Homo sapiens: one gene and its partners. The protein of the gene in region 3 purifies or fractionates together with the protein of the main gene of each other region. This does not show direct contact. Each region holds a gene or a part of one and is shown on either strand. Other genes may lie near its edges. The genes, in order: ZFYVE19, USP34, UBE2V2, NMNAT2, MYO5B, MYO1E and RAI14.

The links.
Region 1: the proteins of UBE2V2 (region 3) and ZFYVE19 fractionate together in Homo sapiens (co-fractionation; one large-scale study listed by BioGRID). This does not show direct contact.
Region 2: the proteins of UBE2V2 (region 3) and USP34 fractionate together in Homo sapiens (co-fractionation; one large-scale study listed by BioGRID). This does not show direct contact.
Region 4: the proteins of UBE2V2 (region 3) and NMNAT2 purify together in Homo sapiens (co-immunoprecipitation; one large-scale study listed by IntAct). This does not show direct contact.
Region 5: the proteins of UBE2V2 (region 3) and MYO5B purify together in Homo sapiens (affinity purification with mass spectrometry; one large-scale study listed by BioGRID and IntAct). This does not show direct contact.
Region 6: the proteins of UBE2V2 (region 3) and MYO1E purify together in Homo sapiens (affinity purification with mass spectrometry; one large-scale study listed by BioGRID and IntAct). This does not show direct contact.
Region 7: the proteins of UBE2V2 (region 3) and RAI14 purify together in Homo sapiens (affinity purification with mass spectrometry; one large-scale study listed by BioGRID and IntAct). This does not show direct contact.

The regions. Positions count from the first base shown.
Region 1 is NC_000015.10:40,809,473-40,813,004, forward strand, and holds part of ZFYVE19 (abscission/NoCut checkpoint regulator), read left to right. Parts: intron 1-379; coding exon 380-498; intron 499-598; coding exon 599-744; intron 745-915; coding exon of another isoform or gene 916-998; exon of another isoform or gene 999-999; intron 1,000-1,176; coding exon 1,177-1,285; intron 1,286-3,226; coding exon 3,227-3,430; intron 3,431-3,532. UniProt on the Homo sapiens protein: Key regulator of abscission step in cytokinesis: part of the cytokinesis checkpoint, a process required to delay abscission to prevent both premature resolution of intercellular chromosome bridges and accumulation of DNA damage.
Region 2 is NC_000002.12:61,191,419-61,195,702, reverse strand, and holds part of USP34 (ubiquitin carboxyl-terminal hydrolase 34), read left to right. Parts: intron 1-2,722; coding exon 2,723-2,802; intron 2,803-4,284. UniProt on the Homo sapiens protein: Ubiquitin hydrolase that can remove conjugated ubiquitin from AXIN1 and AXIN2, thereby acting as a regulator of Wnt signaling pathway.
Region 3 is NC_000008.11:48,039,073-48,043,356, forward strand, and holds part of UBE2V2 (ubiquitin-conjugating enzyme E2 variant 2), read left to right. Parts: intron 1-3,960; coding exon 3,961-4,109; intron 4,110-4,284. UniProt on the Homo sapiens protein: Has no ubiquitin ligase activity on its own. The UBE2V2/UBE2N heterodimer catalyzes the synthesis of non-canonical poly-ubiquitin chains that are linked through 'Lys-63'. This type of poly-ubiquitination does not lead to protein degradation by the proteasome.
Region 4 is NC_000001.11:183,292,605-183,296,888, reverse strand, and holds part of NMNAT2 (nicotinamide/nicotinic acid mononucleotide adenylyltransferase 2), read left to right. Parts: intron 1-3,095; coding exon 3,096-3,184; intron 3,185-4,031; coding exon 4,032-4,099; intron 4,100-4,284.
Region 5 is NC_000018.10:50,184,984-50,189,267, reverse strand, and holds part of MYO5B (unconventional myosin-Vb), read left to right. Parts: intron 1-4,284. UniProt on the Homo sapiens protein: May be involved in vesicular trafficking via its association with the CART complex. The CART complex is necessary for efficient transferrin receptor recycling but not for EGFR degradation.
Region 6 is NC_000015.10:59,362,474-59,366,757, reverse strand, and holds part of MYO1E (unconventional myosin-Ie), read left to right. Parts: intron 1-4,284. UniProt on the Homo sapiens protein: Actin-based motor molecule with ATPase activity. Unconventional myosins serve in intracellular movements. Their highly divergent tails bind to membranous compartments, which are then moved relative to actin filaments.
Region 7 is NC_000005.10:34,829,631-34,833,307, reverse strand, and holds the end of RAI14 (ankycorbin), read right to left. Parts: intron 3,577-3,677; coding exon 3,511-3,576; intron 2,621-3,510; coding exon 2,543-2,620; 3' UTR 696-2,542; downstream 1-695. UniProt on the Homo sapiens protein: Plays a role in actin regulation at the ectoplasmic specialization, a type of cell junction specific to testis. Important for establishment of sperm polarity and normal spermatid adhesion.

The DNA of each region.
Region 1 (3,532 bases), on a different chromosome or scaffold from region 3:
GAAAAAGACAAAGAGCATTGGGGAAAGGATAAGGGAGCCATAGGGAAAGACCCTGCCCCCATCTTCTAGATAAAATGAGCACAGAATCAGGAGAATTCTCTCCTCTCTGGCTCCTGACTGCCCTCTTGGGCTGGTAAAGCAGCTCTTCAGCCCTCTCTCCAGGACAGGCACTTGGTAGAGCTTGTCCTTTCAGCTGGACCGTCTGGCTGGTCAGCCAGGTTGGGCTGCAGGGTGACATGAGTGAGGGGCACAGCAGATTGCCCATTGGAGGCCTCCCTAAGTGCCCAGAAATGATTTGATTTGAATGGGAAACAGTGAGTGGGTGCCTTCACTCTTCCCCTCTGCCTTCTTCAAGAGCCTCTATCTCATATCCTGCCAGGCGTGTGGCAGCCTTGGAAGCCAAGCAAAAGCCCAGCACTTCCCAGAGCCAGGGACTGACACGACAAGACCAGATGATTGCTGAGCGCCTAGCACGACTCCGCCAGGAGAACAAGCCCAGTGAGCAGGGGCAGATGGGGTTGCCTAGAGGACACAGTCCAGGGCTTCTGGGACTGAGATGCCTCTGGCCCTTACAAGGCTCCCCCCATGCCAATTGCAGAGTTAGTCCCCTCACAGGCAGAGATAGAGGCACGGCTGGCTGCCCTAAAGGATGAACGTCAGGGTTCCATCCCTTCCACCCAGGAAATGGAGGCACGACTTGCAGCGTTGCAGGGCAGAGTTCTACCTTCTCAAACCCCCCAGCCGGTGAGTGTTATGGCTTAGGAGAGAAGCGGGGGTGCTAGCGGGAGGACCCAGCAGAAGCCCAGATACAGGTATTGGGGTGATACAAAAGTAATTGTGGTTTTTGTCATTACTTTTAATTGCAAAAACCTCAGTTACTTTTGCACCAACCTTTGTACTTTATGTACTTTGCAGGAGTTGGCAAAGCCTCCCACCCCTACCTCCTGATCCTCAGGCCTGCTACCAGACCCGGGGACCAGGGACAAACAGCACGATAGGGTAGGGCAGGAAAAAGTGGCCCCTCAGTCCTGTTGGGGACGGCCAGACCTACTTGATTATGTGGGCCCTGGATCCCTCTCCTTTCCCTGGGCTTTGAGAACTACTTAGCATCCATCCCTGACCTAGACTGCTTCTGGGCTACCCCTGCTCTCCACTGAGGTTTCCTCGTCTGTGCAGGCACATCACACACCGGACACCAGGACCCAAGCCCAGCAGACACAGGATCTGCTAACGCAGCTGGCAGCTGAGGTGGCTATCGATGAAAGCTGGAAAGGAGGAGGCCCAGGTAACCCCTCCACTTGGCTCCCTAGGAATCTGCCCTACCTCTTTCCCCAGACTGGAGAGGCTCTGCTGTCCACCCTCTGGGAGATGAATATAAATCGGAGAGTGATCAACGTTATAAGAGTTACCATTCATTGAGTGCTTACTCCAAAGGGAGCCAGTGTAAGCCTAGTGTTTAAGTGCACGGGCTTTAGAATCAGACAGTGATTCCCATTTCTACCACGTATTAGCTGTGTGATGCTGGACAAGTTACTTGACCTAAGTCTCACTTTCCTCATGTGTAAAATGAAGGTATGTATGGAAAAACCTACCTCACAGGGAAATCAGGAGGAGTAAACGAGATAATCCAATAAGTGCTTGGGAACATACCTGACTCATAGTGAGTACTCAGTGAATATTCTCTGCAATCATGATGTTGATAAGGAGGAAGAAGCTATTTAGTAAAACCAGCCACATCTCAATGCTCAGTAGCCATATGGGCTTCATGGCTACCATCTTGGACAGCACAGATATAGAACATGATATGGAATGTTTCCATCATCATAGAACATTCTGTTGGACAGTGCTGTTTGAAGGCTTCAGAGCAGTGGTTTTCAACAAAGGATGATTTTGCCCCCAGGCTACTTGTGGCAACATTTAGAGACTTTTTGGTTGTCACAACCCAGAGGATATTACTGGCACCTACAGGATAGAAGCCAGGGATGCTACTAAATCTACTATGTCACAGGACAGCACATCATGATGAAGAATTACCCGGTCCAAAGTGTCAAGAGAACTAAGATTGAGAAGTCCTGCTTTAGAGGCACAATCTCATTGAATATCCTCAATAATCTTATGAGGCCAGGTGTGGCTCACGCCTGTAATCCTAAGCACTTAAGGAGGCAGAGGCAGGAGGGAGGATAGCTTGAGCTGGGGAATTTAAGACCTGCCTGGGCAACATAGCAAGACTCTGTTTAAAAAAAAAATCTTATAAGGTACATACTATTCTTTTTTATAAATGAGGAAACAGGCCTGGTGAGCTTGAGGAACTTGACCAAGGTCACACAGCTATTAAGCTGCAGAGATGAGACTTAAACCTAAAGCTGTGATTTTAAACCTCTTGCTCTGAAACACTAAACTGAAGGTGACTGTGTCAGAGCCACACCTAATCTGGTAAAATTCTTCCTGCCCAGTGATATACAAGCTCTTAGCTTCCTTCATTGCCCTCTCTGTGCTAATCCCAGGAGATGCTAATTCCTGCCCTGAAAGGCAAAGAGATCGGCTGAACCTGGGCCTTATCATGTCTTGATCCTTTAGGGCAGTGATTCTCAAACCATAGGACGCCCACCCTTAGGGCAGAATGTTAAAATATCAGGTAGATGGGGATGGATGTGGTTGGAAAAGACATGGGTAAAATTATTAGTTTTTTACATTTGGAAAAATGGAGGAATACTAATTTTATTTGTGATAGAAACCATAGGCGCTAGTGCTGAGCAAAAAGCTGATGATCTGTGATTAGAAAGGGTTGAGAAAAGCTGGGCATGATGGCTCACGCCTGTAATCCCAGCACTTTGGGAGGCTGAGGCGGGTGGATCACGAGGTCAGGAGTTGGAGACCAGCCTGACCAACATGTTGAAACCCCGTCTCTACTAAAAATACAAAAATTAGCCGGGCATGGTGTCACGTGCCTGTAATCCCAGTTACTCAGGAGGCTGAGGCAGGAGAATCGCTTGAATCCAGGAGGCAGAGGTTGCAGTGAGCTGAGATTGCACCACTGCACTCCGGCCTGGGTGACAGAGCGAGACTCCATCTCAAAAAAAAAAAAAAAGAAAGAAAGAAAGAAAGAAAGAAAGAAAGAAAAAATTATTAAAGAAAAAGAAAAGAAAAGGTTGAGAAATGGGCTCATTGGCTTCTGAGGAGAGATACTGGGATGTCTCGGCCTTGCTGATGGCATTACCCCTTCCAGCTGCCTCTCTCCAGAATGATCTCAACCAGGGTGGCCCAGGGAGCACTAATTCCAAGAGGCAGGCCAACTGGTCCTTGGAGGAGGAGAAGAGCAGACTGCTGGCTGAGGCAGCACTTGAGTTGCGGGAGGAGAACACGAGGCAGGAACGGATTCTGGCCCTGGCCAAGCGACTAGCCATGCTGCGGGGACAGGACCCCGAGAGAGGTGAAGGCTGGGGAGCAGCTGCTCACTGGTATCCCTTGGTCAAGGCCTCCCTGGCAGGGCTGAGTCAGGTGCTGGGGGTATTTGCGCCCAGAGATCTACTGA
Region 2 (4,284 bases), on a different chromosome or scaffold from region 3:
TTGTTTGGCTAATGGTTTTTTTGTTTTGTTTGAGACAGAGTCTGGCTCTGTCACCCAGGCTGGAGTGCAGTGGCACAATCTCGTCTCATTGCAACTTCTGCCTCCTGGGTTCAAGTGATTCTCCTGCCTCAGCCTCCTGAGTAGCTGGGATTACAGGTGCGTGCCACCACGCCTGGCTAATTTTTGTATTTTTAGTAGAAACGGGGTTTCACCATGTTGGTCAGGCTGGTCTCGAACTCCTGACCTCATGATCTGCCTGCCTTGGCCTCCCAAAGTGCTGGGGTTACAGGCATGAGCCACTATGCCCAGCCTGGCTGATTTTTTTTTTTTTTTTTTAACCTTTAAAAATGTAAAAGCCAGCCGGATATGATGGCTCATGCCTGTACTCCCAGCACTTTCAAAGGCCAATGCAAGAGGATGAATTATGCCAGGAGTTTGAGACCAGCCTGGGCAACATGGCAAGACCCCATTTCTACAAAACTTTTTGAGAGAGTTTGCTCTGTCACCCAGACTGGAGTGCAGTTGCATAATCTTGGCTTACTGCAACCTCTGCCTTACGGGTTCAAGCAGTTCTCCTGCCTCAGCCTCCTGAATAGCTGGGATTACAGGTGTGTGCCACCACACCCAGCCAATTTTTGTATTTTTAGTAGAGACGGGGTTTCATTATTCTCCTGCCTCGGCCTCCCAAAGTGCCGGGATTACCAGCGTGAGTCACCATACCTGGCCCAAAACTTTTTTTTTTTTTTTTTTTGACAGAGTTTCACTCTTGTTGTCCAGGCTGGAGTGCAATGGCACGATCTCGGCTCACCGCAACCTCCGCCTGCCGCGTTCAAGCAATTCTCCTGCGTCAGCCTCCCAAGTAGCTGGGATTACAGGGATGTGCCACCACGCCCTGCTAGTTTTGTATTTTTACTAGAGACGGTTTCTCCATGTTGGTCAGGCTGGTTGCGAATTCCTGACCTCAGGTGATCCGCCCACCTTGGCCTCCCAAAGTGTTGGGATTACAGGCATGAGCCACTGCGCCTGGCCCCAAAATATTTTTTTAAGAAAATTGTCCCAGCCTGCAGTCTTAGCTACTACGGAGGCTAAGGTGTAAGGATCACTTGAGCACAGCGGTTCAAGGCTGCCCCTGATCTGTGATCACGCCACTGCACTCCAACCTGGGCAACAGAGTGAAGACACTGTCTGTCTCAAAGAAAAAGCCATTCTTAGCTCACAAGTCCATATAAAAACAGGCCATGGGTCAGATTTGGCCTGAGGGCCATAGTTTGCTAACCCTTCCTCTACTTTGATGAGTAATTAGGATACAGGAACATGGGAACGTAGGAACTCTCTTCCCTATAGCCACAGATGTGATGACATGTCCTTGTTTACCTATGTGTGTGGTGATACCGTGGTGGGTATATGCTGCCAAACACCAACCAGATTAGGTTAGGATAAAGGGGAAGTAGCATTTCCTTGCCTCTTGTGTCTAAAGGGACTCATCTTGACAGGAAAATAAATTGGCTTACCTGTGGAAGGGATCCTAGGCATCCTTGGTAAGTTCTGAGTGAGTGACCTGACTTGCCTGTGTAGGATGTTCTCAAGTCCTTGGTCTAACCCACGGTTTGGCAAATTACAACCCACATGCTGCCTGTTTTTGTATAACCATGGCTACCTGCTAGCTAAGAATAGTTTTCATATTTTTAAATTTTTTTTTAATATAGAATATTTTCTGACATGAAAATTATGAGATTCCCATTTCAGTGTTTGTAAAGTTTTACTGAAAGACAGCCACACCCATTTCCTTACTCTTGTCTAAGGCTGCCTTCACACTGCCTCAGCAGGGTTGAGCTGTGTTAACAGAGCATGGCCACAAAGCCTCAAACACTATTTGGCCCTTCCCAGAACAAGTTTGCTGACTCCTTGTCTAACTCAGTCTTTTCTTAACTGGAAGAGGATGGTCTGTGTTATATTTCTTCTTCTCCATGATTATACTTGCCCTGGGGACCCTAGGGGATGTGGAAGATGGGAAATTCATTTAGGACTGTGGTAATGAAGCTTCTGTACTTTCAGAGATAGGATGACAGAGGATAGGGGCACACATCTTAGTGACATATTTTACATCTGGAATAGTCAAGAAGTGGAGAAGTAAATTCATAGAGGTTCCAAATAGCACTCTCTGACATAGTGCCAGATGCGGTCCACTCAGAAGATCCTGGGAACAAGCCAAGAAACTGGTGTTAAGGGCCGCATTTACTTAAATGTACCACAAAGGTCATTCTATCTTTGAAGAAAGAAGGTAAAAGAGGAAAGATATGTTTAATTCTCCACTTTTTTTTTTTTTTTTTTTTTTTTACCTTTCCCCTCCTCCCTCCTGCAGTCTAGCCACCCTATGAAAATTATCTAATAGGCAGAGTGGTACCTTAATCCAAGAAAGATTTGGAGCCACTTGCAGTAACTTTTTCTTTTCCCAGATAAAGTTCTAATACTCAAAAAAGAAGAGTTGATTTAAGTCCCATATCCTTCAGGAATGAGGTATAGGATATAAATAAATTCAAAGTACCACATTCTAAGATATTTCACTAAACATTGGAATGAATTTTTCCCCTTTATGTACTTTAAAATATAGAAAATATGCAGTTATGACTAGAAATAGCTGTAATATTGTACCTGCAGAGTTGAGTATCTCACTAGTATAATTTATAATTATAACCTATTCTGATTTCTTTTCAAATATTAGGTGTCCTAGTTGCCTATGAAGGTTTGCCACTTCATCTTGCACTGTTCCCCAAACTTTGGACTGAGCTATGCCAGACTCAGGTAAAGAAAATGAGTTTTAGATGATTGGTCTTTAATCTTATCTGACCAAGTGGTCAATAATTTTAGGAACAGTGGGTTGAAGACTTGCTGAAAAGTGGGGACATTTTAGAATCTTGATAGGTAACATATGAATGAATGAAAATACTAGCTATTACATATTAGGCATCTAGTTTCCCTTTGATTTTTTTAACTTAAGTAGATTTCTATCATAGAGGATATTTTAAATAAGCTGGTTATAATTGAATTTCTCATTTATAGATGTATATCAACAGTTGTGGGGAAAATCCAAAACAGGGAGATAGTGGGGGAAAAGGCACTTGCCACTTCTTCCTCTCCTTCACCTCCCTGTCTCTACCTCTTTTCCACCATTCCAAAACCTCTAGCAGAAACCCTGTCAGCAGTCTGTCCTTTAGCTTTTCATAATCTGTAGTTTTTCAGGGGTCTGATGCACTTGTTTTCTTACAGCGATCTCCTTGAAAACAGGAAAGATTACTGTTCCTACCTTAAGTGTCTAAGAGCCAACTCCTTAAAATTAAGTGGCTGCATAAATAATGCTTGTTAAGTTACAAAGGCAGAATTGGGAAGAGGAGGAGGTACTAATGTTTGGCTCATTCCTTGGATCAGGCATAAAGGATCCCCACTACCTTTCAGTCCCTGAAAAAACTGTTGATTGTACTGCCTGGTTGCATCTGCTCTACCCCATTGGAAGAGATGAATTTATTCACCTTCCTTAGGTGCAACCCTTGACCCACATCATGCTTTCCTGAAGTATTTTGAGTCTGGTTCAGCCTCCTACCAGGCTGTAGTGTGCTCTGGATTCTCCTAGATGTTTGCCATCCTGTACTCTACTGGTGGTTTCTCTACTTTTCCAAAACAGAACTCAAGTGTAGAGACCTTATCAGAGTCATCTCCATCCCCTGAAGAAATGCCACGTTGTTCTCTACAGTAGAAATCTTTCAGAGGCTAGTATACACTGATCTTAGCTCACTTGACTTAGCATACAGTAGGCATTCAGAAAATGACTTTTATCAGTTGATTTTTGAGCTGAGTGTTCTGTTCAGTCAATTGGAGATCTCGTTTTCCCTCTCCACTGCTACTGCTGTTCTTTTTCATTCTTCCTGATTTGGGTAGTTTCTTGGTTTCTGTACTCTCCCACTACCTATTGCTCCCTATTGCTTTCTCTACTTCTGCATCGCAGGACTCCCTTCGCTTGACTTCTTTCACAGACAGAACTCACTGTGCCCCCAAATTTCCCTTAAAACAAAGCCTAACCATATAAGGCCTCCAAAGCTTCCAGTGCTATAGAAGCAGCCATCCTGAGCAAGAAACAGAGGCAGAGGCACAGGCTGTGACTGGTAGACCAAGGCAGGTTTTTCCTAGTGTTAAGGATCTCAAGACCTGGGTCTTGGTCCTACTTGAATCCTAATTTCTTGACTGACCTTGAGTAATTTACTTATGACAGCTGCATACTTTAATAAGATA
Region 3 (4,284 bases):
GTATTTTTAGTAGAGACGGGTTTGACCATGCTGGCCAGGCTGGTCTCGAACTCCTGCCCTCAGGTGATCCACCTGCCTTGGCCTCGTAAAGTGTTGGGATTACTGGCGTGAGCCACCGTGCCTCGCCCGACCCCTGATTTTTAAATATCTTTTCCACTAACACCTTTATACTTTTTGCTACATATGTATATATGTATAAAAACTATGTTTATTTATAGCTTCTATACCAGTTTATTCTAATCTCAGCAGTGAATGAACTTCCAATATCTACACGTTTGCCCAGATCAAGAATTATCAGACTTAGTATTTGTCAGTTTGGTGGCTAGAATAAGCCGTTATGATTCCCTGATTACTGATGAGGTTGAACATATTTTTATGTTTGTTGGTCATTACTGTTTTCTGTAAACCTTATTCCTAATATGTTCTCATTGTTCTCTAGGGTTTTCTTTTCCTTGTTGATTTCTAGGAGGAATTATTTCTGTATTTTGAATAACGTTCTTGTCTTCTATATGTTATTCACATCCTTTTTCAGTCTGTGGCTTATCTTTTCATTTAATCTGCCTATAATTGATTTTTATGTATACTATGAGATCAGATTGGGTTCTAATTTTATTTTTTCATATTGGTAAAGTGTTCCAACACCATTAACTTTTCCTACTTTTTTTTTCCTTCTCTTTTGAGACAGGGTTTCACTCTGTGGCCCAGGCTGGAGTGCAGTGGTGTGATCACAGATCACTGCAGTCTTGACCTCCCTGGGCTCAGGTGATCCCCACCTTCTGAATAGCTGGGACCACAGGCATGTGCCAGCTACCACACCTGGCTAATTTTTGTATTTTTTGTAGAGATGGGGTCTTGCCATGTTGCCCAGGCTGGTTTCCAACTCCTGGGCTCAGTTGATTGGCCTACCTTTGCCTCCCAAAATGCTGGGTTTACAAGTGTGAGCCGCCACCATGCCCAGCCTTTTCTACTTTTTTTTTTTTTTTTCTTTTGAAATAACTTCAGATTTGCAGAAAAGTTAACATAAGTAGTACGAAGGATTCCCATATACCTTCATGCAGATCCATCAAATGTTGATGTTTAACATTTTTGCTTGCTCTTGTGTGTACTCTCTCTTCCCCCCTCCCTTCACATTCGATTTTGTTTTTTGGGGGAACCATTCAAGGGTAAGTTAACAGATACTGTCTCTTCACCCCTACATTCTTCAACTAGGACATTTTCTTACAATAGAATTATCAAAATCAGGAAATTAATGTTGATAGAGGACTATTATCTACCAGCCCTATTCAGATTTCACCACTACTGTTCTTTAAAGCAAAATAATGATAATAATATTTTTCCTGATACCAAGATTGCATTTGGTTGTCATGCCTCTATTCTCTTTACTGACTTTTAGTGTTGCCTCTACTAAGAAGCACATTTTCATATATGATATGTCTGCTTTGGGGCTTTTCTTTTTCATTAGTCTGTCCATTTCTGTACTGATTCCATATTTTCTTAATGATTTCTTTAGCTGATGAGGAAGTCTTAAAATCTAGGAAAGTGTCCCCTCTGTTTTTTCTTTTTTTGTTTTGTTTTTGTTTTTGAGACAGTCTCGCTCTGTCTCCCGGGCAGGGGCTTGATCTCGGCTCACTTCAGCCTCCACCTCCTGGGTTCAAGCGATTCTGCAGCAGCCTTCCAAGTAGCTGGTTGGGATTACAGGTGTGCACCAGCATGCCTGGCTTATTTTTGTATTTTTAGTAGAGATGGGGTTTCATCATGTTGGCCAGGCTGGGTTTTTTTTTTTTTTTTTTTTTTGTGTGTGTGTGTGTGTGAGACAGAGTCTCACTCTGTCACCCAGGCTGGAGTGCAGTGGTGCGATCTCGGCTCACTGCAAGCTCTGCCTCCTGGGTTCACACCATTCTCCTGCCTCAGCCTCCCGAGTAGCTGGGACTACAGGCGCCCGCCACCACGCCTGGCTAATTTTTTGTATTTTTACTAGAGACAGGGTTTCACCGTGTTAGCCAGGATGGTCTCGATCTCCTGACCTCGTGATCTGCCCACCTCGGCCTCCCAAAGTGCTGGGATTACAGGCGTGAGCCACTGTGCCCGGCCTTTTTTGTTGTTTTTTTTTTTTTTTTAAGACAGAGTCTCGCTCTGTCGTCTAGGCTGGAGTGCAGTGGTGCGATCTCGGCTCACTGCAGCCTCCGCCTCTGGAACATTAAATGTTCCAGACCAGTCTGGCCAACACGGTGAAACTCCATCTTTACTAAAAATACAAAAATTAGCCGGGCATGGTGTTGCACGCCTGTAATCCCAGCTATTTGAGAGGCTGAGGCAGGAGAATAGCTTGAACCTGGGAGGTGGAGGTTGGCTCGGCTACAGAGCGAGACTCTGTCTCACACACACAAAATAACACAGCAGGTGTATGAGGAACATTAAATGTCTTTCCTAACTTACTGTATGCAAATAAAAGTAGATACTTAAGAAATTGTCTAAAAATATTTAGTAAACCCATTTCTACACAGACAAATTAAAAGTTCTGAGAAATCAGGCTAAAATCACCTCAAATTTATAAGGTTTGATTAATAAATATTTACCTTTGCATATACACGAAAGCAAAAAAAGGTAGGAATACTTTCAATTTCAGATAACAATAAATTGAAATCAAGTACAAATTTTGACTCCCCTTCCTAAACTGAATAAACTCTTAAAAAGCAGACACACTTTACTTGTGTAAACACTCTTCTTTTTTTTTTTTTTAAATGGAATTTCTCTCTTGTTGCCCAGGCTGGTGTGCAATGGTGTGATCTTGGCTCACCGCAACCTCCACCTCCCGGGTTCAAGCGATTCTCCTGCCTCAGCCTCCCGAGTAGCTGGGATTCCAGGCATGTGCCACCATGCCCGGCTAATTTCGTATTTCTAATAGAGATGGGGTTCCTCCATGTTGGTCAGGCTGGTCACGAACTCCCAATCTCAGGTGATCTGCCTGCCTCGGCCTCCCAAAGTGCTGGGATTACAGGCCCAGCCGTATCCACTCTTTTAAATTTAGGCATCCATGTCACTGGAATTATGTTTTTCACAGGATCACTTTTAAATTCATTAAGAAGTTTCTTTATGTATATAAGCCTATTCATTTTACTTGAAAGGTTTTCTGTCTTCCCAAAGTCAAATCCTTACTAACTAAAATTAGGAATTTTGAAAAACCATCCATGAAAATCTCACAAACACATTAAAAAATGTATTATCTAAGGTGCATAAAATTAAACTCCATATTACCAATAGCATTTAAGAAACTCATATAAAATGATAATGTTTTCTTTAAAGAGACATACTGAAAGCCAAGTCAGTTGTTCACAGGAGGTGGTTTTGCACCATTATTTGAACTTTGATGTGTGAATTTGCTTTAGAAGTCCATGGTCTGTTTACTCTCTGACAGATTCTGTTTTCACATGCCCCTCACATGAAGGTTCACTCCTCATTCTTTTTTTTTTTTTTTTGAGACAGGTTGGGTGGGACTGCTTCAGGATTCTAAAAGACAGTACCTTCTGGTGCACTTTCTAAGATGGAACATAATTCTACTCTTTGAAAATCATTAGAGAGTATATATTAATGAACTTTGGCTTCTATGAACTTTCTGGGCATGCCTGTTTGATTGGTGCAGAGTCCTTGGCTGTAACAGAAACATCAAATAGGGAAAACGATTTCCTTATGGTTGATTGACTTACATCAGTATAAAATTGATGAGGAATTTATATACACGTTGTATACTGCTGTTAATGTTTGGTACAGTGCTTTCTTTAGTGTTTTCATTTTGAGGGGTTATTAGATTCAGCATTTTCTGGAGCAGAATGCTTTTTAAAGGGGATTTGGTCTTTTTGGGAAATAATTTATAAAGGTTAATTTGGAAAAAGCTGAATTTAAATACGTGTAGCTCTTATAATTATGAGCTTTTTACATTTACACTGACGTTCTTTTGTATAGGAGTTAAAGTTCCTCGTAATTTTCGCTTGTTGGAAGAACTTGAAGAAGGACAAAAAGGAGTAGGCGACGGTACAGTTAGCTGGGGCCTTGAAGATGATGAAGATATGACACTTACAAGGTGGACAGGCATGATTATTGGGCCACCAAGGGTCAGTGTTATAAATTATATTTTTTCTATTAATACTTATTGTTAAAGTTAGCATTTAATTTTATACTATTGATATTAAAATAAGCAATTATGATAACTTCTAAAATAGTTCCTTTTTATTTTGTTTACATTTATTGATGCTTCCCACGTGCAGGATATAATGCTCGATTACGTAG
Region 4 (4,284 bases), on a different chromosome or scaffold from region 3:
AGGCCTTTAATTTGGCCTCAGAATAAGATCTGAAAACAAGTGAAGTACTACAACTCTTTTAAAAAGCAAATATGGGGCTGGGTGCGGTGGCTCATGCCTGTAATCCCAGCACTTTGGGAGGCTGAGGTGGTCAGATCACCTGAGGTCAGGAGTTCAAGACCAGCCTGGCTAACATGGTGAAACCCCATCTCTACTAAAAAATAAAAAAATTAGCTGGGTATGGTGGTGCACGTCTGTAATCCCAGCTACCTATGAGGCTGAGGCACAAGAATCACTTGAACCCAGGAGGCGGAGGTTGCAGTGAGCCAAGATGATGCCACTGTACTCCAGCCTGGGCAACAGAGCTAGACTCCATCAAAAAAAAAAGCAAATGTGACACACTTATCAGAGTGACACACTTATTAAAATCCAAATAATGCCAAATGCTGGTAAGAATTTGGAGCAACAGAAAGTCTCATTCATTCCTGGTAGGAATATAAAATGGCACAACCACTTTGGAAGACAATTTGACAGCCTCTTAAAAAGCTAAACATAATCTTACCATATGATTCATATGGCTCCTTGTGTAGATTCCCTAATTTACGTCTTCACAAAAACCTGCACATGAATGTCATATCAGCTTTATTTATAATCACTAAAAACTGGAAGCAGCAAAGATGTTCTTTGGTAGATGAATGGATAAACTGAAGTACTTCCAGACAATAGACTATCATTTAGTGATTAAAAGAAATGAGCTGCCGGCCGGGCGCGGTGGCTCACGCCTGTAATCCCAGCACTTTGGGAGGCCGTGGCAGGCGGATCTCCTGAGGTCAGGAGTTTGAGACCAGTTTGGCTAACATAGTGAAACCCCATCTCTACTAAAAATACAAAAAATTAGCTGGGCATGGTGGTAGGCGCCTGTAATCCCAACTACTTGGGAGGCTGAGGCAGGAGAATCGCTTAAGCCCGGGAGGCGGAGGTTGCAGTGAGCTGAGATGGCGCCACTGCACTCCAGCTTAGGGGACAAGAGCGAGACTTCCTCTCAAAGAAAAAGAAAGAAATGAGCTATCGAGCCATGAAAAGACATGGAGGAACTTTAAATGCATACTGCTTAGTGAAAACAGCAAGTCCAAAGAGGGTACATACTGTATGATTCCAACCATATGGCATTTTGGAAACGTCAAATCTATAGAAAAAGTAAACAGAACCGTGGTTGCCAGGGGTTTGGGAAAAGAGGAGGCATGAATGGGTGGAACACTGAATTTTTAGGGGATGAAAATACTGGGTATGATACTATAATGAAGGATACAATTGTCAAAACCCACAGAACTCTACAACACAGAGTAAATCTTAATGTAAACTATTGACTATAGTTAATAATGTGTTAATAATGATTTGTCAAGTATAACAAGTGTGCCACACTAGTGCAAAATTATTAATATAATGGGGGAAACTGCATGAAGGGAGGTAAAAAGGTGGGAGGGGTCTGAATATATGGAAGTCTATGTACAATCTGCTCAATTATTCTGTAAATCTAAAACGGTGTTACAAATAGTCTATTCATTTTTTTTTTAATCTAAGAAATTTCACATTGAAAGAAAAAGAAGCAGCCAAGTGCCGTGGCTCATGCCTGTAACCCTTGCATTTTGGGAGGCCAAGGCAGGCAGATCACTTGAGGCCGGGAGTTTGAGGCCAGCCTGGCCGACACGTGGAACCCGTCTCTACTAAAAATACAAAAATTAGCCAACCATGGTGGCTCATGCCTGTAATCTCAGCTACTTGGGAGGCTGAGGCATGAGAATTGCTTGAACCCAGGAGGTAGAGGTGGCAGTGAGCCAAGATCGCACCACTGCACTGCAGCCTAAGTGACAGCGTGAGACTTTGTCTCAAAAAACAAAGAAAGAAAGAAAAAGAAGCAAATATGGTGAGATCTTTTTTCAAGTGTTAAGAAATCCAGCAAAGTAATTCTGAAAACTTGCTTGTAAACTACACAGCCAGCTTTGCTGCCCAGGCCGCCTTCTACTTAAAAATTCCTTCACTATAAACTCCATGCTAGATTTTTCCTCAGTGGAATAAGCTCAGGCCCTGTTGACAATTTTTGTTTTGTTTTGTTTTGTTTTTAGATGGAGTCTCCCTCTGTCACCCAGGCTGGAGTGCAGTGGCACGATCTCAGCTCACTGCAATCTCTGCTGCCCGGGTTCAAGCGATTCTCCTGCCTCAGTCTCCCGAGTAACTAGGATTACAGGCGCCTGCCACCGCGTCTGGCTAAGTTTTGTATTTTTAGTAGAAAAGGGTTTCACCATGTTGGCCAGGCTGGTCTTGAACTCCTGACCTTGTGATCCACCTGCCTCGGCCTCCCAAAGTACTGGGATTACAGGTGTGAGCCACCACACCCGGCCCCTGTTGACATTCTTAAAAGGAATTGTTTTGGAAGTAAGATAGAACCAGACTTTTCAGTCCCTTCCTTGTTTGCCGAAATTTATTGCGAAAATAAAATTGGGTTTGTCTGATAGATTTGAAAAAGCAATATTGCATACCTTCCAAAGGATAAAAGGCTTTTATCTGGCCAAATTTTTCGTCTCAACCAAGTCTAAGATGGTGGTCTTCTGGGTTGATTGCTAATTCTTTGTAATTATCTACAAGGCCCTTTAAATTTGTTTTGGTGGTTTTTCTCTTCTGAATAATTAGATGAGGCAATCAGCACATCTTTCATATTATAAGGAGGCTTTTATTTATTTATTTTTTAAATACTACTCCTCCACATTATAACTCCTGCAAGTGACAATAGGGGTAAATTCCAATCTGTAGCTCTAATGGCTGCTAATGAGGCGCTTGTTTTAAATCCTTCTGAGCTACACTGGCTCCTCCCACAGAGGACTTTTAAAACAGGATGAATCTCCTTGAGTTCTAAATCCTTTTGCTTTGGGGGCTGAAATCTGGTTCTGTAACCTTTTGAATCACCAACATTTGCTTTGAAAGTTGACATTTTCTATTTAAATGGCAAGAGAGATGGGAAATAAACCCCAGCATTACAGAGCTGAGCGTATTGATTTCAATTATCACCTTTAATCCATGCCTTTCCTCTTTATAATGTGTGGGTTTCTTCTCTTAATTAGAAAGAGCCAGGGATTATCTGCACAAAACTGGAAGGTTTATTGTGATTGGCGGGATTGTCTCCCCTGTCCACGACTCCTATGGAAAACAGGTGGGTTCCTTCCTGTGCCCCTCTCCTCTTCAATCCCCGTCCCCCCATCCCTGGCCTGATAGTTCCTGGCAGAAAAACTGCCCCCGCTCTGTCTCTGCTAAGATTCCTGGAAACACAAAATGCCCAGGTCCATGCGTCTATCCTGCTTCCCATCTCAGGACCACAGTCGGACCTGAGTGGATGGGCGTTGAAGCAGTAGCTGGAAAGACCAGCTGTCCATGACCGTAGAGCCACTTACGGGCTGGTCAGGACTCACTGAAAGAGGAGCAGAAACACCCACTGGGTGTGGCTTGGTATGGTGGATGCCAGATTGGCAGCTGGTTATGGGTTGAGCTGCACTGGGCAAGTCTTCTCAGGATTTTAGGAGAAAACGGCCTATGCCTTTTATAATCTGATTTAAAATTCATATCCCTGCTCATCCCTCCCTGCCACGTGTCCCGGCAAATCTAGGAGCTCCACCCATCATTCCCCCTTTCTCCCACAGATGCACCTTGGTGGGCTCTGGGGAAACTCACCTAACCAGCCAGACTGAGCCATAAGACAAGGCCACATTTGCTGAGTTAAGTCTCATCTCTGCAGGGCACACAGGGGCTGCTTCGCAAATGGAGGCTCATCTATCGACCTTGTTGGGGTGGTATATACCACACACCCTTTATTTGTTTCCTTTCCCACCACCATTCCAGGCCTGCCTGTGTGGCAAACGGACAAGTAAAGGGGTCACATTCTTCATTCCCTCTCACCACTGAAAAATGGCTGCACTTTAACAATGGGTGGGCTTGGGCTGGTATCCCAAGGATGTTGTGGGGAACGGAGGGAGTCTCCCAATGATTGCTCTGTTGCTTCCCAGGGCCTCGTGTCAAGCCGGCACCGTCTCATCATGTGTCAGCTGGCCGTCCAGAATTCTGATTGGATCAGGTAGGACTGGCCTGAAGATGCCAGAGGCAGTGGCCCGGAGACTTACTGGGAGTGGGGTGGGGAAAAAAGAAGAGTTCCAGCAGTAATTTGGATCCTGAAAGGATGGGGAGGCAGGGGCAAGATATTAGCCTTGTGGAGGCAATAAGTAGACCTCCAGGGATACCTATAACTTTATTTTTGAACCA
Region 5 (4,284 bases), on a different chromosome or scaffold from region 3:
TTCCGGAAAACACTGCCTTACAAGTCTCTTGAGCAGGAATCCTTGTCTCAGGATCAGATTCTAGGAGCCCAAGTTAACCATAACTCATGGTGGCTTAGCTTAGTGGATGTTGAGAATCTCAAGGGCTTTGGCCCCTCTATGGTCCCAGGAAAGGCTGAAAAGAAGCATGGAGGTTGTGTGTCATGCTGTCACTTTCCTTCTGAGGCTCATTCTCTGTCTTGCATGTGGTTTTTTTCTTCTCTCATCCCTAGTTCCAATTCCGTTGATCCTCTGCTCCCCGTTTTCAGATGGGCCTATAAGCCCAGTGGATCCTGCTTCACCATGTTGGCGATCATCAGAATTTTGAAGTTTGTACTTGTGACTTGTGGATGTGGCATATTCCAATGGCCTGTAACCTGTAATCATTGAGCAGGCTCTTGCCCTGCCCTCCTTTGTTGATAGGTGTGTGTGTTTTTTTTTTTTTTTTTTTTTTTTTTTTTTTTATGACAGAGTCTCACTGTGTCACCAGTCTAGAGTGCAGTGGAACGATCTCAGCTCACTGCAACCTCTGCCTCCTGGGTTCGAGTGATTCTGCGGCCTCAGCCTCCTGAGTATCTGGGACTACAGGTGTGTGCCACCACTCCCGGCTACTTTTTGTATTTTTAGTAGAGACGGGGTTTTACCATGTTGGCCAGGATGGTCTCAATCTCTTGACCTCATGATCTACCCACCTCAGCCTTGTTGATAGTTTTTATGTGATGCTTTATCTAAGTAGGCTGAGATTCTGGAGAACAGAGGCCATACCAGATGTTTTTAGGAGCCTTCAGTGTGTTTGGTGATAAAAGCTAAATACACAAAGTACACTAACAATACAGGATTATCTGTGTGTCATTAGAGGAGTGCACATACTCCTCTACAAGTTACAGGCATTTTGTAGAAGTGTTGGTCTGGTGGGCTACAGTATTGCGGGAAAGGCTTCCTTTAAGGTGTAGTGGGACATGACTGGGGCCTAAAGAATGAATAGGATTTGAAATGCATGAGGAGGCTGTAAAGAAGGATGTTCTCTCAGGAGGAGACAGGGGAGAGTGAGTTTAAGCATAGGGACAGGTATGAGCTAGATGTATATGGGGATAATTATAGCACTATTTTTAACTATTTTGAAATATACACTTACAGAAACATTGCAAAAATAGTGCAGTTTCTATATTTTTCCAGATTGCTCCAGTGTTAACATGTCATATAACCATAGTGCAATTATTGAAACCAGGAGGTTAACATTTCTGTAATACTACTAACTGGTCTATAAAGCTCACCGGAATTTTACCACCTTTTTCACTAATGTTCTTTTTCTGGGCCAGGATCCTGTTTAGGGTTCCACATTGCCTTTAGGGTTGTAGCTCCCTGCCCCCCTCTAGTGACAGTTGCTCAGTTTTTTGTCTTTCATGACCTTGACACTTGAAGAACATTGGTCAAGCCAGGCACAGTCACTCACACCTGTAATCCTAGCACTTTGGGAGGCCAAGATGGGAGGATCCCTTAAACCCAGGAGTTCGAGACTAGCCTGGACAACATAGCGAGACCTCATCTCTACAAAAAATAGAAAAAATTAGCTGGGTGTGATGGCATGCACCTGTGGTCCTAGCTACTCTGGAGGCCGAGGTGGGAGGATTGCTTGAGCCTGGGAGTTGAGGTAGCAGTGAGCTGTGATTGTGCCACTGCACTCCAGGCTGGGTGACAGAGTGAGACCCTGTCTGCCCACCGCCCACCCCCCCAAAAAAAGCATTTCTCAATAATTTTGTAGAATGATTTTGGGTTTGTCAGACTGTCTTATGCTTACATGGAGGTTGTGACTTTTGGGCAAGAACACATCATAAATGCTGTGCCTTTCTCACTGCATCACCTCAGGAGACAGTGATATCAATGTGTCCTGTTACTGACGGATCACTTTGATCCCTTGGTTAAGCTGATGCCTGTCAGTTTCCTTTTATTGAAGAATGGAATTTAGAAATGAAGATCTGGTTGCTAGGTGTACTCATTACTACTTTTTGTAGTTATGTAGAAATTACAGAGACTAGAACTCAATAAATGTTTTATTAAGGGCAAGGGAAGTAGAAGAGTCAACTATGAACTTGAAATATCCACCTTGAGTGTGGACAGAAGTCAGGTTGGAGCAGGGATAATTCTTGATTTTTGACATGTTGGGTTTGGGATGAAAATGGTTTGTCTAAGTGAAAGCATTTATTTACATTTGGAGATTTACGAAAGAGCTTAGAGGAGAAATGTCAGGATCTGGGGTTCTTGCAAATGATGCCTGGGATTTGCTTTTCTTTAATGAAGAAATGCAGTTGTCTGATAGCATGGTGTTAATAAGGGTAAGATCAGGAGCTTGGTATGGGCATTTCCAAGGCCTTTGTGACTATGATCTTGAGGTGGACACCCTGGATATTGTGGCGCTCTCAGCTCCGACACATTGGAACAGATACTTTCTAAGCCTTGATTTCTTTATCTGAAGAATTGGGGTGGTACCTGCACCATGGGAAGGTTACTGGAGGCTTATAATCCTAATCCATGTGAAGTGCTTGTCTAACATAGTGTTGGCAACTGTTCATTAGTTTGCTTCTCCCTCCAGTCACCATGCTGGGTGGCAGTCAGCATTATGTGGCTAGCATGTTTTTTCCCCTAACCCTTCCCTGCTGTCCTGAAGGGGTCTTGATCACAAGGAGACTTGGTGAAAGAGGAAGTAGGATTGCTACAAACATGAACTATGAGAGCGGTAGACAAGATATGGTACTCCCCACCACCCCTGGGGAAGGAGCAAGAGCAGTCTGAAAGAAGTTTTAAGTTTAACCTGTGCTTTCTGGTCTCTTATTATAGCTTTAAAGGAAAATTAAAAAGCATTTTTCACAATGCTTCTGTTTTCCCTCTGTGAATACAAATGATTATTGAAACAATCCATACAATGCAGGAAAGACAAAAGCTCTGTAGTCTCATTCCCAGAAACAGCTGCTCTTGACCACTTAGGCATGTTCTCTGGACCTCCGTTGTCCAACAGGGTAACTGCATGTGGCTGCTGAGCACTTGCGATGAGGCTGGCCCAGCTTGGGATGAGCTGGAAGCGTGCAGTACTGTACACACTGGGTTTCCAAGACTTAGAAAAATGTATGCGAAATATCCTTCATACTTCTTATATTGGTTATGTGTTGAAGTGATTGTTATTTATATATTGGCTAAAATATTCTGTTCAATTCACCTTTTAAATGTGGTTATTAGAAAATTTAAAGTACCACAGGTGGCTCACAGTTGTAGTTTGCATTCTGTTTCTCTTGGGCAGTGCTGCTTTAGACTTATGCACAATATGTACTCAAAACAAATGGGATCATGCCATGTCTATTACTCTAAATCTTAATCTATGGCTATCTTTTCCTGTAGCCTACAAAGGCAATTTTGCCATTTTTAATGGCTGCACAAGGCAGCATATGGATGTACTGTAATTTTTTCTTAAAAATATACATTTTTTAAATTGCCAAGATCTGATGCCATATACTGTAATGTGTTTAACCATTCCCATGCTGATGAGCATTTAGGTTGGTTCCAATTATTTTCCTTTTGTTTTTTGTTGACAGTAATAATTGCACAAATTTATGGGGTTCAAGTGATTTTTTTAATACACGTATACAATGTATAATGATTAAATCGGGCAATTAGGTTATCCACCACCTCAAACATTTATCATTTCTTTGCATTAGAAACATTCAAGATCCTATCTTCTAGCTTTTTTGAACATACTAATAAATTGTTAATCTTTTGATACTGTGAAAGATTGTTCTTGTAACCTCATTTATTTTCTCAGAATAAATTCCTAAAGCTGGAATTGCTGGCATGCACATTTATAGTCTTCATTGATATGGCCAATAGCCACCACAAGAGAACCAGTCTGTTTCTTCGCCACTCTAAGTTCGGGTCATTGTTCTTTCTCTCTCTCTCTCTTTTTTTTTTTTTAAATTCTTATTCATACTAAATGTTTTACACATGTTTTAAAGTTGACTTTCATTGGAGGGTTGAGCCTCTGTTCACATGCTTGGTAGGCTCTACATTATTGATCACTGGGAACAATGTGTTGTTTTCCTTATATTTCTTGTTTGTATTAACTGGCATTATTTATAACTGTTTTTGCTCATTTAAATGACTACTCTATATTTTTTATTTTTTTGAGACAGGGTCTCATTCTGTCACCCAGGCTGGAGTGTGTGTGGTGGTGCAATCATGGCTCACTACAGCCTCAATCTCCTAGGCTCAAGCAATCCT
Region 6 (4,284 bases), on a different chromosome or scaffold from region 3:
GACAAAAGGTTTTGGGGCATCCTAGCAAAGTATTTTTTTCATATATCTTTGGGACAGCCACACTTAAGAGAAGTACAACTGTAAAAGCCAGCCCTAACATAGTGACATGAACTTTGACAACCCATAGAACTCAAACTGTACATGTGAATGAAGTTGGCCCGCCCTTCTGAGTTACCACCATGAGAATGACGTCATTGCCGTTGTTCAAAGCACTTTTGAATGGTCATTTATGAGCTATGTAATAAAACCTATTTTTTTGCCGGGTGTGGTCGTTCAGGCCTTTACCAAAAAAAATTTTAAAAATTAGCCACGTGTGGTGTCATGCACTATAGTCCCAGCTACTTGGGAGGCTGAGGTGGGAGGATTTCTTGAACTGAGGAGTTCAAGTATGCAGTGAGCTGTAACTGTGGCACTGCAGCCTGGGTGAGAGTGAGAGAGAGAGAGAGAAAGAGAGAGAGAGAAAAAAAAGAAAGAGACAGGGCTGGGCCCTGTGGTTCACGCCTGTAATCCCAGCACTTTGGGGGGCCGAGGTGGGCAGATCACCTGAGGTCAGGAGTTTGAGACCAGCTTGGCCAACCTGGTGAAACCCCGTCTCTACTAAAAATACAAAAGTAGCCAGGTGTGGTGGTGCATGCCTGTAATCGCAGCTACTTGGGAGGCTGAGGCAGAGAGAATCACTTGAACTTGGGAGGCGGAGGTTGCAGTGAGCCTAGATCACGCCATTGCACTCCAGCCTGGGCAACAAGAGTGAAACTCTGTCTCAAAAGAGAGAAAGAAGGGAAGAAGAGGGAAGGAGGGAGGGCCTTATTTTTTATTTTTTAACTCCTTAGTGCCCAGTGTGATCATTCCTATTACTCACCAGACTTTGTATTACATCCCTCTCAGGTGTTTCCAGAAGTTACATTGTGCCTCAAAGGCGGAACAATTAGCCCCACTAAAGATATGCAGTATCCAGCAGGTCCCTTTTTCCTGGAATAAGTATAAGAACTGCTCTGAAGGAGGCACACTCTCTTGGGTCTTTTGAGCTCTGATAATGTTTGTTACAAATTCATTTATAGCACTTTATGGTCATACGTTACATTATAGAAAGTAAAACATAGGCTACATTGTAGAAAGCCCAGAAGAGAGCTTAAAAATTCTATCCTAAATCCATTTGTTAACTTCACAGAGAGATCTAGAGAGGTTAAATTACTTCCAAAGTCTCATAGCTAGTTTTTAGCTGAGCTGGTGCCAGAATCCAAGTTAGATCTGATCCAGTGCAGATCTAACCTTATTAGATCCCAGTCTAATAAGGTTTTTCTTACCAAACAGTGGTGGGAATAATTCTTTAAGAGTCTGGACGTGACCAGATAGTTTTCTTTCTGGGACTTTTCAAGAAAGTCTGCTTGTAGGTGGAAGGTTACTGTACTAACTTCATTATAAGAAATTTAGAAGAATTCAGCCGGGCGCGGTGGCTAACGCCCGTAATCCCAGCACTTTGGAAGGCTGAGGTGGAGGGATCACCTGAGGTCAGAAGTCCGAGACCAGCCTGGCCAACATGGTGAAACCCTGTCTCTACTAAAAATAAAAAATTAGCCGAGTGTGGTGGCAGGCACCTGTAATCTCAGCTACTTGGGAGGCTGAGGCAGGAGAACTGCTTGAACCTGGGAGGCCGAGGTTGCAGTGAGCCGAGATCACACCATTGCACTACAGCCTGGGGCACATCTCAAAAAAGAAAAAAAAAAAGAAAAAGAAATTTAGAATAATTCACCCAAAGTACCCCCACACCCTAACACAGTAATTATTTTTGTCTCTGGGTTTCCTTTCAGTCTGTTCAAATGCATTGTTTCTTTGTTTGTTTGTTTTTCTTGAGATGGAGTCTCACTCTGTCGCCCAGGCTGGAGTGCAGTGGCATAATCTCGGCTCACTGTAACCTCCTTCTGCCTCCCAGTTTCAAGCGATTCTCCTGCCTCAACCTCCTGAGTAGCTGGGATTATAGGTACACACTACCATGCCCGGCCAACTGTTTTATTTTTAGTAGGGACAGGGTTTCACCATGTTGGCCAGGCTGGTCTTGAACTCCTGGCCTCAAGTGACCCACCTTGACCTCCCAAAGTGCTGGGATTATAGGCATGAGCCACCACACCGGGCCTCAAACACATTGTTTTTATGTGGTTGTAATTATGGGGCAAATATACAATTTGTGTTCTGTTATTTTTCCACTTGTTTTACAAATCCTTTTTCTTGATAAGCATATTTGTTATATTTTGGTGGCAGTATTATAATCCCATGTAGCCGGATTACTCACTGTGTGTCATAACTGTATGGAGACTTCCTCCAGAAGTGTGTACAGGGGAGAGTTCCTCCTTCCACCCACTAGAACCGCTGTGGTCAGTAATGGGCTGCTTAATCTTTGGCTCCTGAGATAAGAAGCCCCCTCTTTGGGTGAGCTTGGGATGCATACTCCACATTCCCAGGTTCTAGCCCAAAGGTACCTACCATTGGTGCTCCCCCTGGATTCTGGCGTTGACACTCAAATATGTGACACCAGTGGGTACTCAGACCTCTAGGTCTTCCTTGGCAAATATGAGTGGTCTTACCAGAGAACGGGAGTGGATGGAGATGGAGAGCTTTGAACCTCAAAGTGGAGAGAAGACATTGCCATGGCAAAGGAGGTTAGCATACAGGCTTGGTGAATTAGAGCTGGGCATGGTGGCTCAGGCCTGTTATCCCAGCACTTTGGGAGGCCGAGGAGGGCAGATCACTTGAGGTCAGGAGTTCGAGACCAGCCTGGCCAACATGTCAAAACCCCCGTCTCTACTAAAAATACAAAAAAATTAGCTGGGTGGGGTGGCGGGCACCTGTAATCCCAGCTACTCGGGAGGCTGAGGCAGGAGAATCGCTTGAAATGGGAGGCAGAGGTTGTGGTGAACCAAGATCTTGCCACTGCACTCCAGTCTGGGCGACAGAGCAAGATTCCGTCTCCAAAAAGATGAATTAGTCTCTCTGCCTCTGCTTATGAGAAGCTCCCCATATAGTGGAGAAATGATAACAAAAGGCTTCCATATACATGATTTCATTTCATTCTAGCACCAGTGTTGGTTTTTATTGCCATTTTACAGGTAAGAAAATCAAAGTGTAGTGAGGGGAGGGGAATTACTTAGGGCCACACAATTTGTATGTGACCAGCCAGATCTGCTAAGTCCATGCTCTTTGAAAAGTGGTTCAATAAATTATTTCTAAATTTGACAATGCCGAGTCCACGTATTTGTATACTTTTTCATTATTTCACATACTCCTGAGGGAAGGTAAGGCTGATAGAAAATCACCAATTTTGGTTGATTTTATTCAGTAATACCAGAGGGGATAATTTAGACTTAAGAACATTGTCTGTTATGAGTAGTAGTGTTCTGAGTTTTAATTTCCTTGCTTTGGGACTTTGCCATAGAGACTAGAAGATGTCATAGTGAGAGCAAGCATAAAAGTAAAAGAAAGTAATACTGGCCGGGCATGGTGGCTCACGCCTGTAATCCCAGCACCTTGGGAGGCCGAGGCGGGTGGATCACGAGGTCAGGAGATCGAGACCATCCTGGCTAACATGGTGAAACCCCGTCTCTACTAACAATGCAAAAAAAATTAGCCAGGCATGGTGGTGGGCACCAGTAGTCCCAGCTACTCAGGAGGCTGAGGTGGGAGAATGGCGTGAGCCTGGGAGGCGGAGCTTGCAGTGAGCCGAGATCGTGCCACTGCATTCCAGCCTGGGTGACACAGCGAGACTCCGTCTCAAAAAAAAAAAAAAAAAGAAAGTCATACTAGAAGGCTCTCTAATCTTAACTAGGATTAAAAAAAATAGAAAATAGGAAAATGTGAGAACAACAGAGATTTAGTTGTTTAATTCTTAAATACATTACAGAATACAACAACAAAATTAGAATATCACATTGTTAGTCTCCTAATAATTTCTTCGGTGTGACCACCATTTGATGTTGACAGCAATTTAGGATAACATTACATGGTCACAGAATATTTTGGACAGTATTATCTGATTCTAAGAAATTTTCAATGAAAAAATAATAGGGCTGTTTTTGGTGTCCTAGGAAGATGCAGACCTTATAGAAAATTTTAGATTTAAATGCAGAAGAATCTAATAAGCTATTTTAAGAATGTAAGTAAAGATAGCTTCCTTCAAGGCTTGGGAATGCTGTAATGCAGAAATATGCATCAATGCAAAATGATGACAGTGCCCTTTCTCCACATCAGATTATCAGAGATTCCTAACATTTGGATGGGAGAATGTCCTGAGTC
Region 7 (3,677 bases), on a different chromosome or scaffold from region 3:
CTGGTTGGCCACAGTTGAAATAAAAGGTTCAGTTGAGTATCACACACATGCTTTCTTTGAAATAAAGTTTCAGGGTATAGTAGGAAGGCACAATGAAACTGAAGTAGAGGTGGAATCATGTTGTAAGTGAAGGGAAATGGCCTTGTTACATTGGAGTATGATAAACAATGCTAACTTCTTAAGTAGCTGTACCTATTTCATGTAATTTTGATTATGATTATAACCTGCAACAATTTTAATTATGATTTTAACCTTGCCAGAATTCACCTGACAAGAGTTTTGTCAGGAATTAATTGAATTGTCTTTGTAATGGGGCAGGAAAATGTATCTGGATTTTTTTTTTACATATGTATGTATTACTTTTTCAAAAAAAGCAAGAAGCAAGAGGGAAAAAAAATCCAGCGGAGGCTTCCAAACAGTTAAACAGACTGCAGATTAAATGAGAGGCAATTGTGAATTAAAGGCAACTGTGATTCAACTGCCCCAAAGCGGCTGATACTCAGGGCAGAGCTCAGGGCGAATCCAAGAGCTGGGAAAAGGAAATGATGTGAGACTTTGTGTGAGACAGTGCGGACAACTCATACCAGCTGAGCATAGCACAGACTAGAAAACCTATTACACTGAAATGCTATTGAACTGATCTTCAGAAGCCACGCAGATATGCTTCTGAATACACCAAAAATCAACACCAGAAATGCAAAATGAAACAAGTTTATTTTCTCCAATAACTTCTGTAAATTACAAAGACAAAATACTAAAAACTACAGCATATAACTTTTCAATATTTAACCAGAGTACTCGTAATAAATATGCATCCGGAAACAAGATAAAAGGCTACACCTCGTCAGGCATCCTACAAAAATGTCTCAAGTTTTATATACTCTGCAGCATTTCTGTGCGGGGGCAGAAGGGGCTGTTGTGTATTTTCTGAAGTGCTGTGACAAAAGGTCCTTTCACATTTCTTTGGAGCATTTTTGAAATTGCTTAACTATAATTAAACAACTTAAGAAAAGTAACACCAAGCTTTAAAGCCATTTTTGCTTTGCTGTCATTGGTCCTTATCCAATACAGATCAACATATCATCCAGCACAGCCAAGCACCCACTGAGGCCAAGCAGCCTTGTGGGACATGGGCCCTGTCAGAGCAGGCCCTACTTTCAGTTAAATACTTTGGAGAGTCCAGGATTCTGTCTCTCTCCCTCAACAAGATTAATGCCATAAGGGAAGTTGCAAGCGTGTTAGAAACATTTTTAACCTGAAAGTAAAGTGAACAGAAATATTTTTTTTCCGAGACCTCTGCTATGCACCATAATATTACCATATCAGGGTTTTTAGCTTCAAAGTTGAAAAACAGATTGGTACTAACAGTCCTTCTAGAGATCATTTATGGGCGCTGGTAGAGTCAGGGCATTCAAAACATTCAACGGGTAAAAGGAGGATTTGCTAGATTCAGAAATGCGCTACAATTCTGAAGACACCATGGCTGAAAGTTCTAGGGGTGTTGGTGGCAGCTCATATTAGGTCTGGCATACATAACTACCTTTTGCTATAGCTGAAAACTTTAAGGAAAAAGTTATATTTTTAAAAAGTCTCAAGCATGGCTACCTAAAAAGTATTTTGTTAATATAATCTACTGTAATTTCACTTATTTAGGAGTTCAGATATGAAAACATCTTTATGAGCCAATAAAAATATTACAGAGAAAAAAATACTTCTACAAAAGTTGAGGTTAAGAACTATGAGGCATTTCTTTTGGCTGTAAACACACAGTTTACTGTCCCTTGTTGAAACACAAATGTTTGGATTTCCTGAGCTTCACAGATAACAGCAGGAGGCAAGTTTGCATAGAAAATTTGCAGTATGTCAACAATTTACTTAAAAAAAGAACTTTTAAGGACAACTTGCTTTTGTTTTTAAGTTTCATATTTTAGTTAATAGTGCTCATCAAACTGAATATTGATAAGCAGGGTGATGAGATATATAAGGCAGATGGGAAGAAAACATGGAATTAGAGTTTTTAAATCCACAGGATATCATGATGAAGGGTTTTAAGCAGATACTTCATAACTAGTGCCATACTAATTTAGTTAGAAATTAAATCATGTTTTGGAATTGAAAGCCAAAGGCAAAAAGAGCTCTCCTGTGCTGAATGGCACTGCCCGAGTACAGGAATGGAAGGAGCATTCACTGCAGGAGGCCTCAGCACATCACTCGGTGGTGATAAAGCCACTCAGCCAGTCAGGGATGGAGGAGGGGGCCCCCCTGCCAGCATCAGGACCAGACCTCTGGGCATGGCTGATCCCAGCTCTGGAATCTGAAGGGATGACAGGGACTTTCACCTCTGCTGGTTTGAAGTCTCTAAGCAGTTCTGAGGCGGGCAGTCTTCTCCTGGGAGAAGTCCTCAGAAACCTTTGGAAAGGGAAGAAGCTACGCTAGGCCACAGTGCATACCACGAATGAGAACAATGGCAGCGGCTGCCGACAACTCTGGATCTAACACAAAGACAGATGACAAGGGGCAGTGTCCTGCCAAGGAATCCACTTTACTTCTTTTGAGACTGGTTTTTACACATGGTAAGGATTTGCTTCAGTACTTTCTGGACATCTTCATCCATCTGGCCCTAGGATATTCAAACACAAGATACTCATTAGAACCTAAATTAAGCCATGGCACTTTCTTCTCTGGGGAATGAGATGGCTGACTGCAATGAAGACCTGGGCTAATTCCCACATCTTTCACAGGAATGTCAGCCCTATCATTTCCCAAATTTCTATGAGGAACTGAGTCAAAGAAAGGGCCCTGCCTTTATCCAGCTGGAAGATGAGGTGGCAGTGTCTACCAAAACCCTCAGCAAAAGCTATCTGGGGTCTCAGTTGCAAATGTGAGTCCAGCAGCCAGAACACCAAGCATCATAGAGCCAAGGCAGCACTGGTAACTAAGAAGATCAGCATTGCTGGAAAATAAAGCCCCCGTCTTCCCAGTGGAGGACCACATCATCCCTCATTCCTCAATAAATGATGGGAGGGTGGGGCATGGTGGCTCATGCGTGTAATCTCAGCACTTTGGGAGGCCGAAGCGGGTGGATTGCTTGAGCTCAGGAGTTTGAGACCAGCCTGGGCAACATGGCAAAGCCCCATCTCTACAAAAATACAAAAATTTGCCAGGTACGGTGGTGGGTACCTGTAATCCCACCTACTTGGGAGGCTAAGGTGGGAGGATCACTTGAGCCCGTGGGTCGAGGCTGCAGTGAGGCGAGATTATGCCATTACACTCCAGCCTGCATGACAGAGTGAGGCCCTGCTTTAAAAGATGGGGCTGTTCCTGGTAAACAGGGCACAAGGCTCCTGACACAGAATCCAAAGCAATGCAAAAGGCATATTCAGGCTTTCCAGTGAAAAGGATTCTCCTCTAATTCTTGTTCATTCTCCTAGTTAAATGATGGGAGTTCTGTCAACATCTGCTGCCGTATTTCTTTAGGATGTCCAGATACTTCAAGGGGCATAACCATACCTGCACAGCATACAGAAGATGCATTCTGTAAACTGATATGACCTCCTGGTGTTGTTTCTTGCATTCCTAGAAAGGGAATATTTCACATTATTAATGAGCTTAAGAGATCTTTAAAGAACAAAAACAAAAAACTATGAGAAAGCTGCAGCCAAATGCTACCCAAGTGG